3 linked regions of the Homo sapiens genome follow. The protein of the gene in region 1 purifies or fractionates together with the protein of each later gene. This does not show direct contact. Each region holds a gene or a part of one and is shown in the gene's direction. Other genes may lie near its edges. The genes, in order: ELFN1, OXSM and SIGLECL1.

Region 1 (3,750 bases):
AGACCTCACAGACAGGCAGGGAGGAGAGGGTGCCCCGCTCACCGCCGGCCTCGTTCCACAGGCCCAGGCCTGGCACATCCCAGGCTTGCAGTATCTATCTGGTGGGTAAACAAGGACCTGCTCTTGGCCTGCGGCCTGGCTCTGACCGTGGTCCAGGTCGGGGCAGAGGGAGAAAGGCCACAGCTTAGGTGTTCCAAACCACCGGTGCCCTTCCTGCCGGCCCCTGGGGCTGTGCTGGGTTTCCAGGGCCCCTGCCCCCCAGTATTTGCATGAAATCGTGGGGGCGCACTGGCTTTCGTCCTAGCACTCCCCTTCAAGGCTCTGCACCCCTATCACGGGAGCCCCACCCAGCCAGCCGAAGGAGGCCACAAGCTCTAAATTACTAAATTCGGGCCAGTGCTGGGGGCCTGGGAGCCAAGGCAGCTCAGAGCCCACTCTCCGATTCTGGCTCCTGGAGAACCCTAGGACCCGGGCGTGTCAGGCCCTGCAGCCGGGCTAGGCCGGTCCATACAGGACTGAACGGCGTCGTGGGCGTTCATTCACATTCCCTCTCCGGTCCCCACACACTATAGGATTTATCTTGATTTGCTGCCTTTGAATTGAGTCAACTCTTTTGTATGCTCGTTGAATTGCCCAGCTGCTGGCGGCGAGCGGAGAGCGTGCCGGGGGTACTGAGGCCGGGAACCAGAGGCGGGCGGGGGACAGGAAGCGGGGAGGGGGCGCCGGCGGGGACGCGCGGGCTGCGCGGGGACTGGAGAGGGTCCCCAGGCGCCGGCCGTTCTGCGAACGCGGGCTTGTCCAGGCACCGCCGGGGCCTGCCCGGCCCGAGCGTGGAGTCCCGAGGCTCCTGCCGGGGGTCCAGGCTGCCCCTGGGGCTCTGCCTTCGACGCGCTGTGTAGGGCCAGATTCTGGGCCTCTCTTGACTCAGTTTCCCTTCCTGTAACATGCGGACGGGGGCTTCCGCACAGGCAGGTTGTCAGGGTGAAACTGAGCCGAAGAGTGCTCCAGAACCCCCTGAAGTCCTCACAGAGGTTGGGGTGAATGAAGGAAGGAAGCGGGGCCAGGGCTGGGCAGAGGAGGCCCGGCCTGCGCCCTGCGTTCTCCGCCCCTAGGTCCCTGCCCTCCCGGATAAGGGGCGGACCGACGGGAGGACCTGAGAACGCCTTGGCTTTGCTTGAGGTGGTGGGAGTCGCGGGTAGCTTGTTCAGCCAACAGCTGTCGCCCCCACTCCCCCCACCCACCCACCCACCCCCTCCACCTTTTAGATGTGGGCGGGGAGGGCCGGGGACGGACCGCGAGGACGCCCCCTGCGCTTTCTAGGACCTCCCCTCCTTCCCCAGCCCCTGCGCGTCGCCGGGAGAGGGAAGGAGCGGGTTGCCGCGGGGAGCCGAGGAGAGCAGGGGGCTCGGGAGGCCAGGGAGAGAAGGGGAGGGCCAGAGGCTCCGAGCCGGACTCGCGGCGGAGGAAGAGGGGGTGGAAGGGAGCGCGCAGGCGGGCGAGGGAGCGAGGGAGGGAGAGAAGGAGGGAGGGAGGGAGGGAAGGGGGGCGGGAGGGGGCAGGGCGAGCTTGAATTCCCCCCCGGCCGCGCGGCGAGGGGCGGGGCCGCGCGCGCAGATCGATGGGCGAAGCTGGGGAGGAATTTCAATCCCGGGAGCGAAGTTAGAGCTTGAAGGACGGCGGCGGCTGCGGGCGCAGCCCCGGAACCGAGGCCGGGCGGGCAGGTAAGCGGCGAGCGCGGCCGGGCGCTGAACCTGGGGGACTTGGGACCCGGACCACCCCCGGGGAGCGGCGCGGCCAAGCCCCCCGCCACCTCGAACCCCGGGCGTCCCCGAGTGCGCAGCGTGCGCCCCCAGCCCCTGCTGCGCCCCCAGGCCTGGCGCGCGATCCGAGCGCAGCGGGCAAAGTTGGAGGAACTTGGCGGCGGCGGAGCGGGCGCAGGCTCAGCCCGACAAAGCCCGGGGGCCCGGGTCGGGGTCGCTGCCGCAGCCCGCACGCTGCCCCGTGCCTCCGAGAGGTCCCTTCCCCAGCGCCTCTCTCCCTTCCGTCCCCCTTCGCCGTCCGCACCCTGCCCGGCGCCCCCCAGACGCGGCCCCCTGCCCTTCCCTTCCCGGAAATTAGGGGGCTGTCCTCACCTCCTGGCCGAGTCGCTGACCCCTCCCCAGGCTCGCATCGCCCTCCCTGCTGGGCCGCCCTCCCCCCGACGCTGCGAGCCTCCTCGCTCCGCGCGGGGACCGTCCAGTCACGCACGGGGAGGGGTCACATTCCTCGGTCCCAGCCCCTGAGTCCAACCACTGGCGGGGGGGTGGGGTGGGGGGCTTCGCTCCGAACTGAACTTACTGGGTGCTTTCCACCCCTCGCCCCACCTGGAGTCCATCCTCGTCCTCGTCCCTCTGGGGGCTGGGAGGAGGCTGCCAAGCCTCCGTGCCCCAACCTGCCTCTAAAGACAAGCGCCCCCATTTCCATCCTTTGAAACCTGCAGGTCACCTGCTTGATGCTGAGGGTGGGGCGGGGGGCACTGCCTGCCGTACCGCACACCGCCCCCCCCCCCATAAAAACGACACCCTCTGAGATGAAAATCCGGCTTTTCCAGGTCTCAGCTGTGTGACCTTGGGGCAGGTGAATCTCAGAGCCTCAGTTTCCACACCTGTGAAATGGGGCTAGGATGATCATGCCTTCTGAAAAAAACGAAGGCTTAGCAGAAAGGGTCGAGGCCGGCCGAGCCAGGTGTGCACGTCCTCAAAAAGCCTCCGTGCCAGCACTTTCCCTTCCTGCACACCCGGAGTGGGGCCTCTTTGGACCCTGGCTTGGGCTGGCTGCCTCTGCCGCTCATTCCCTCGATTGGGCTAAGGGCTGTGCGGAGAGCCTGGGGACAGAAGCTGTGGAGGGACCGGGAGCCAGGAGCAGATGTAAATGGCAAATCTCCCCATATTGCCTCTCTCAGGGGCTGCCCCCTAGAGAGGCCCCCAGCCTCCAAAGAGGTCCAGCTTGCACCCAGCCTTGGGGGAAACCCCATTGGGTTGGGCATAGGTTGCTTGAAAAGCATCAACATGCTCCTCTTCTCTGCCTGGCTGGCCCCCTGGCCTCCTGCCCCCTGGGTCCCTGCCCCTGCCACCTTTTAATTGAACAAGCATTGAGAAGACTGGCTTACAGGTCCCAGCCCAGGTTTGCGCCCCACTCCACCAAAGCAGGGGGACAAACTCCAGGGGGCCGTGTGTGGGAGGGGGTCACCCCCTCACCTGGATTTGAGGGGGTTTGGAGCCCAGCCAGGACCCCAGCACTTGGGTCCCTCATTTTCCTGGGCATACGGTGGTCAGGGAGTTCTGATCCCCACCCCTAGTGGGCAGAAGACCTGGGGGTCTCCAAGTCAGAGATTGGGGGCCATGCCCCTCCCCCTGTCCTACAGCCAGCTGTGCAGCCCCCTCCTCCTCGGCCGCAGCAGGACTGCTGTGTGCGTATAATTCAGGATGATACAGCAGGCTCGGCAGGCAGCTCCCGACTCCCAGAAAAGCCAGTGGGCACCTGAACCAGAGCCACACTCCTGAGGCCTGGTAAGTCTGGGGTAAGGGTGCAGGGATGTGGTGGGCACCTGCACCCAGGACCAGAGGAGGGGAGGGAGGGCGGCGTCCCTTCCCCACCATGCCCCAGGACTGCCACTGGAAAGCACTGATTTTTCAAAGTGTCTTTGGAGGCAGGCTCCCCACACCTGGGCCAGGGAGAGGCTGCTGCTCCTCCACCTCCCTACCACGGTCC
Region 2 (3,750 bases), on another chromosome or scaffold:
TTTATTTTTCTGAAAGATTTTGTCACCTCTTAGCCAAGACGATTTTGTGATATTACAAAAGAAATAGCACATTAAAACTGTATGTTTCTTATGAGTTCAGCTTCAGAGAAAATATTGTAGGTATTTTCACACTATTATTTTAAAGACAGCAATGAAAAGAGATCAAGTTTAGGTACTTACTCATCAAGTGTTACTTTATAACCACATGTGTTTGTTTTAATTCTTCAAGAAACTCTACTTTGTCACTGAATGAGGATCAACTAGAGGTGACTGGTTAGGCCTGGGACGAAGGTCAAACTGAGCTTTGCTGAATTATTTTAAACAAAATAGATTTCCAAACTCATTTAAATCCAGGACCAACCTGGAAAGCTAAGCTTGACTCACATTCTTCTGTAGGGGTAGGAAAGAATGCAGAGCACTCTACTTGGAAACAATGGCTTCAAGAGGCATTGCCCAGAAAAAACCATAAATATGACTAGAAGGTCCAGATGAAGATTCTATGCTCAACCATTTTTCTAAAGAAGAGCAAGGACAAAACTCACGCCTGGGATAGCATGTGAAAAACAGATGTTCGATGAATACCATCTTGTCGACTTCTTGCTTTTTTACATTTTCATGTTATATTTTCCCTTTATCGGTTTGCAGTCAGCTCTAAGCAAACAGTTAATGAATTTTTCACACTTAGAAACAAATGTCTCCATTGTGACAATGGAGACAATTTTTGAGCACTGTCTCAAATCTGGTGATAATTTTTTTTTAAGTGAAAGGAAGTTTATTAGGAAAGTAAAGGAACAAAGAATGACTACTCCATAGGCAGAACAGCCTGGTGACAACTTTTAAAAAGTAAAAACTTTATTACAAAAACATTTGTTTATTGTAGAAAAGCTTTATTAAATAAAGCTAAGCAAAAATAAGGAGGGAAAGATCACAATCAGTATACATCTTGCAGACCTTTAAAGAATTATTTTTGAAAAAACGGATATATACTGTTTTGTAACTATGTCTCCTAACAAATAGTCGCAACATCTCATTAATAAATATTCACCTGCAGAATTATTTTAAACGGCTGCATGGCATTTGGATGTACCACAAGATACACAACAAATTTCCTGATGTTGGCCATTTTGGTTAATTCCACTTTACTCACAATTACTAATAACGTTGCGAGCTATAGCAATAACTTTGAAACTGCAGAGAATTTCCTTAATTCTTTCTTACAATTCCAGTAGAATACGATGGTGTCCCTTCTCCGACAAAAGGGAATATTTGGGCATTATCACTGCCAAAGAAAAATGCCTTTTTGATGGGTGAAAATGCTACCTCATCGCGTTATTGGCAGGTCCTCGATTATCGGCGAGTCACTGAGGTTCCGAGAGGGGCGTCTCTGCTCACGCAAACAGCTACCCAGCCGCCTCCCACGGTCTGACCTCAGCCAAGGTGACGCGGCTTAAAGTCAACCGGCGGAAAGAGAGTCGAACGGGACGCGTGCGTGGGAAAGCGCATGAGCGTACGTGCGAGCGCGCATGAGCGTACGTGCGTGTGCGCGTGCGCTCGAGAGCGTCATCGCCCCCGACTGTGGAGAAGTGTCCGGGGTAGCCCCGTTACAGGTATCGCTGGCTACCCTCCTCCTTCGCCCCTCCTTTCCTCCTTTACATTCAAATCAAGTCGGGGTTGAATTTCGAGAGGGGAGTCCGAGGACCTGGGGCCTGATTTCTTTTTCTCTCGCCATGCTTCTTCGGGCTGTGTACATGTGTGGTGGTGCCTGAGAGGCGATACAGGGAATGGCTACACTCTTTTACTCCCGCCCCTGGCCTTCGTAGTACCCTTGAAGTGATCCACTAGTCGTAACCCCTCCTTCCACCAATGATTCAATTGGAGAAGTTTAGAGGAGTGGAAAGACTTGTCCCCTTCCCCCATCGCAAGCTTGGTCACAGAGTGTATTGCCAACCCATGTATCCAGACGCTCAGTCTAGGGCTCTTGGCCCTGGGTAGCGTTTTGAAAAGGCTGGTTATCCTTAAGTACTGAAGATTGATAAAGCCCACTTACTTACTTAAAAGAATATGCCCTGAAATGTGTTTTCTGTGCCACTGACACCAGAAATGCTATTTAGAAGAAGTTATCAGTAATCCTGACAAAGGATGCTTCCTGCAGCTCAAATCAGGCTGGAGGTGCCTTTATATTTTTCATTGAATTACTGTTTTGGTGACTCGAATGAATCATCAATTCATTTATTTGTCTTCAAATGTCTGACGGCACTTAAGGTCTAAAAAAGAAGGTAAGTTTAAACAGATAGTTTGATGTTAAGGTATAAATTGAAAGTATGTAACATTTTCCCTGTGTTCATTAGCAGCTCATATCAAGCACCCAAAGGAACACCTTGGATGTTTTTCCTTAGGCCCTTAAGCTATTTAAAAGAATACCTCCTAGGTGTGTTGTGGTCTTTTACAGGAATGTGTTTCTGATCATCTGAATCTTAATCATGTCCAACTGCCTGCAAAATTTCCTGAAAATTACAAGCACTCGTCTTCTATGTTCAAGATTATGCCAACAGTTAAGAAGTAAAAGGAAGTTTTTCGGAACTGTGCCAATATCCAGATTGCATAGGCGAGTTGTCATTACAGGCATTGGCTTAGTGACTCCTCTTGGTGTTGGAACTCACCTGGTTTGGGATCGTCTTATCGGAGGAGAGAGTGGAATTGTTTCACTGGTTGGTGAAGAGTATAAGAGTATCCCTTGCAGTGTTGCTGCTTATGTGCCAAGAGGTAGTGATGAAGGTCAGTTCAATGAACAAAACTTTGTGTCCAAATCAGATATCAAGTCCATGTCTTCTCCCACCATCATGGCCATTGGGGCTGCAGAATTAGCCATGAAGGATTCTGGCTGGCATCCTCAGTCAGAAGCTGATCAAGTGGCTACTGGTGTTGCAATTGGCATGGGAATGATTCCTCTTGAAGTTGTTTCTGAAACTGCTTTGAATTTTCAGACAAAAGGTTACAATAAAGTTAGCCCATTTTTTGTCCCTAAGATTCTGGTCAATATGGCAGCAGGCCAGGTCAGCATTCGATATAAACTCAAGGGCCCAAATCATGCAGTATCCACAGCCTGTACCACAGGAGCTCATGCTGTGGGAGACTCATTTAGATTTATAGCCCATGGTGATGCTGATGTGATGGTGGCTGGAGGTACAGATTCTTGTATTAGCCCTTTATCTCTTGCTGGGTTTTCCAGAGCCCGGGCTCTGAGCACAAACTCAGATCCCAAGTTGGCATGTCGACCATTTCATCCAAAGAGAGATGGTTTTGTAATGGGAGAAGGTGCAGCTGTGCTGGTGCTGGAAGAATATGAACATGCTGTTCAAAGAAGAGCCCGGATCTATGCAGAAGTTTTGGGCTATGGACTCTCAGGTGATGCTGGTCACATAACTGCCCCTGATCCTGAAGGAGAAGGTGCCTTAAGGTAAAGATGGGTTATTTCCTTCGAAATATTTCTTCAAATAAGACACTTTATTGGGAATCCCAAATTAGGGAAGTTGTAGTGTCTGGCCTTGGTGTACAGTATCTCTGTTGTTTTTCTTTTTTAGACTAAACAAGATTGTTTAGTTCTTTGCTTAAGACATTTGAAGTATTTCAAAGCATTTGAACATACTTACAAAAATTGCATTTGAGTTAAAAACCAATGGAGTTGTGGAAAAGACCATGTGTGTCTTTGCCAACTTTTCACGCCTGCATTTGTGCTTAAGCATCAGTGTG
Region 3 (3,650 bases), on another chromosome or scaffold:
CCTTCCCCAAACACATCTCCCACTCTCAAACATAGAGATCGCTGCTATTCTGAATTTGACATTTTATTCTGTGTACTAAGGAACTTAACCTTGCCTGAAGAGAAGTCTGGCCTTTGCCCTTGGCTTCTGGAAGACACTCCCTAGCTCTTAGAATGTCACACCTCATAGGGGTGTCTTTGTTTGCCCAGGGACCTTGCATCACACTGAATATTCTAGAAATGTGATTTAGGATGAGGGCTGGCCACACCAGATAATGTTAACAATGTGATTTAGAGTGGAAGCAATACCAGATAGTCTAACAATGTGATTTAGAATAGGGGCTTTGGATCAAATGGTATCAGCTCAACTTCAGGAGGAGCTGGATGCTAAGATCCACCATGAGGGAAGTCACCATGTTACACGATGGAGGCCCAATAAAAACACTGGACACAAGGCTTGGGTGAGCTTCTTTAGTTGACAGTACTATGCATATTGTCACACATTATCACCAGGAAAGCTAAGTTATGCTGTCCATGACTCCACAGGGAGAGGATAACTAGAAGCTTTGTGTGGGGAACTTCTGGCCTCTGCCCTGTATGTCTTCCCTTGGCTGATTTTAATCTCTATCCTTTAGTTGTAGTAAACAGTAATCACGAGTATAACAGCTTTCAGTGAATTCTGTGAGTACTTCTAGTGAATTACCAAACCTAAGGGTAGTTTTGGGGTTCCAAAACCTTGCAAATGATTTGAGAAATGAGGGTAATCAGGGATCCTTGATATCTTCAGTTGGTGTCAGAAATGAGGGGATCTTGTGGACCATTCCCTAACTTTTCAGTTGTATCAGAAATGGGATTCACTAGAACAGCCCTGACTCACTGAAACATATGGTTTGAAAAGAGGAAGGATGTGAAGTCAAGATGATAAGCCTTTGATTCCTGGGCTGTCCTGCGGTCACCTGTGCGTATAGAAATGCAGCTGTTCTGCAAACAGTTACAGGAGGTAAAAGTTACCATTGCTTTTTCAATACAATGGATCCAACCCCCAAGGAGCTGACCCACTGGATGCATAAGGAAACAAACTAAATAGGCAGTCCCTTGGCTATTTTTATCTGTAATCGTTAAAATGAAAGTGGCTGAGGCGGATCCTGATGCTGGCCCAATCTTGGGCTCTGGCCAGCCTGAGCTACAGCTGCTAGCCTCAGGGCTGTGGCTAAAGGGAAAAGTTAGGCTGAAATGACAGATGGCAAAGAAAATTAGAGTGGTTCACCAGAGAGTGAGAAAAGACGAACATTTCCAAGAGGGTGGAAATCTTTATAAACAGTTATTAAGAAATGAGATGAGTTAAGTGGACATTGAGGGAGTCTAAACAAAGGTCTCAGTGGAGCACTCTTAGAAATTAGGTGGAGCAGTGAGAACCTAGACTTGCCCTCCAGTGTTGAAGGTCCCCCATCAAGTCTGCTATATTTACCCTAGTTTGGAGGAATTTTAGAAGCCAGAAGGCAAACATGACAATGGGAAATCTGACCTCAGATCTCCTGAGGGGACGAACATGTGATCTAATCAAGATAAATGACAAAAGGGCCTGGGTTGCTTGGCCTGACCCCTAACTGAAGACCCAAAGTCATATGCATATTAGTAGTAAAATAGTCAGGGGATGGATAAGAGATATTTCTGGGACTCATGTGGGAGTCTTATACCTGCATTCCAAAAGGTTGGTGAAATTCTAATAGCATCTATGGTTAGATTGCGAAGACATAGGATTACAAAGTGGATGAGATTCAGGCGAAACTTTGGATGAAAATTGGAATGTTTGGACAGACTATGTAAATATGTTATGTGAATGTATTTACCTAAATGTATTATGAGGAAAGATATTGTGTCCAACTATGGAAGAGTTCCCCTACGTACTATTATGAAACAGAAGGCATGTAAATCTTCCCTTCAACCAATATTGATTGAATATGCTAAATAGGAACCAATAAGATTGCCCAAGCCCACACTAATTGTTAATTTGAAACAGTACAGGATATCTGGTGGACAAAACATGTTAGAAGCTTAACGTTTGCTTTATTTAGGCAGACTGGAGCTAAGGCCAGTGAGCACCACCCAGTGGTGAATGCTGGGATTTGGGGCCAGAAAATTTCCAATGGAGAGACAACTAGCTGCCTATTGGGCTTTGAGTCTGCCCCATCATTGAAGGATATAATAATCCTGACACCTGAAATCCTCATGATGTGTTTGTCATGTTGGAAAAACACTGTAGTAAGGAAGGCCATGCCCAAAAGAGTCTCGTAATAAAATGGAAATTGTTTATACAGGAACATGCTACCAGGGAAATGCAAGGAGGTCCTCGTTATATTTATGAACAGGTGGCTTTTTCCCTACTGAAGAGCTGCGAGATCCTATTATTACTTGAATGATGTCTATTAATAGCTCTTGATTGACCAACTAAGAGCGGTTTGATTTATGGATGGCAATTCCAAAGTGAATTAATAACATCCTGTTTGGAAGACTGGCACTCATACTGAGGAAGGCAAAAACAAGTCACTTCAGTGGGCTGAACTGCCTCCACATTTGGGTTTTTACCAATTCATGGGCAGTGGCCAATGGCCTGGCCATATGGTCAGGCAGATGGGCAATGGGAAACTGTACTATTAAAAGGATGCCTATATAGGGTACAGCCTTATGGAATTCACTATAGCCAGTATCTCAAAAGACCTGTTCATACCCCCTACAAATGATAAAATAAACAGAGAAACAGACCTCTTCCTCCCAAAAAGGCAATTAATATCCTACCTTTTATGCTGGACATTTCTTGGCAACTTTTAAAGGATTTTTACTACTTGTGTGTGCGTTCTTAAACACTTGATTTTGCCCGGTTTTTTTCAAATTTTAAAGAAATGCTCATACATTATTACTTATTTGTGTCTGGCTTTGTTCATTCAATATTTTATTTGTAAGAATGGTCCATGTTGTTGCATCTAGCATTAGCTCATAGGTTTTTGTTGCTGTGTAGTATCTCATTTTTTAAAATTCTCTGTTTACTGGCATTTGGATTGTTTACCTTTTTAGCTATTTTTAAATAATACCACTGTAAACATTTTTGCATTCCTTTGTGGCGTACATATGCACAAACATTTCTATAAAGTATACATCTGGGAGTGGAATTGAGGGTCATAGAGTATGTGTATCTTCTGCTTTGATAAATAACTTTGTTGCCCTGATTTATATTTCCACCAATAGTGTGTGAAAGTTGAGTACCACATTCTCACCAAGACTTGATATATTGTCTTGGATATGTACTGGTATCTGATGGTTTTAACAGGCATTTTGCTGGTTATTAATGAGATTTTAAATATTTTCATGGAAATTTTATTAAGATTTGTCTTATGATCCAGCTGTGGCCAATTTCTGTAAACGTTCTCTGTGTGCTTACAAAGAAATTGTATTCTGCAGTTATTGATTGCAGTATTCTCTATATATTTTTGGTCAAATTTGCTGATCAAGTTGTTGAAATCTTTATATATTCCAATAGTCTGTTTGTTCTGTCAGTTTCTGAGAGAACAGTGATTAAAATGTCACACTACTATTGTGGATGTCTGTTTCTCCTTTTATTTTTGTAGATTTTTTGCTTTATATATTTTTGGACTATGTTAGTAGGCAAACACAAAT

The links.
Region 2: the proteins of ELFN1 (region 1) and OXSM fractionate together in Homo sapiens (co-fractionation; one large-scale study listed by BioGRID). This does not show direct contact.
Region 3: the proteins of ELFN1 (region 1) and SIGLECL1 purify together in Homo sapiens (co-immunoprecipitation; one large-scale study listed by IntAct). This does not show direct contact.

What each region holds. Positions count from the first base shown.
Region 1 is NC_000007.14:1,668,634-1,672,383, forward strand, and holds the start of ELFN1 (protein ELFN1 precursor), read left to right. Parts: upstream 1-1,643; 5' UTR 1,644-1,721; exon of another isoform or gene 1,722-3,548; intron 3,549-3,750. UniProt on the Homo sapiens protein: Postsynaptic protein that regulates circuit dynamics in the central nervous system by modulating the temporal dynamics of interneuron recruitment.
Region 2 is NC_000003.12:25,788,541-25,792,290, forward strand, and holds the start of OXSM (3-oxoacyl-[acyl-carrier-protein] synthase, mitochondrial isoform 1 precursor), read left to right. Parts: upstream 1-1,549; 5' UTR 1,550-1,607; exon of another isoform or gene 1,608-2,276; intron 2,277-2,449; 5' UTR 2,450-2,480; coding exon 2,481-3,457; intron 3,458-3,750. UniProt on the Homo sapiens protein: May play a role in the biosynthesis of lipoic acid as well as longer chain fatty acids required for optimal mitochondrial function.
Region 3 is NC_000019.10:51,257,462-51,261,111, forward strand, and holds part of SIGLECL1 (SIGLEC family-like protein 1), read left to right. Parts: intron 1-280; exon of another isoform or gene 281-439; intron 440-3,650.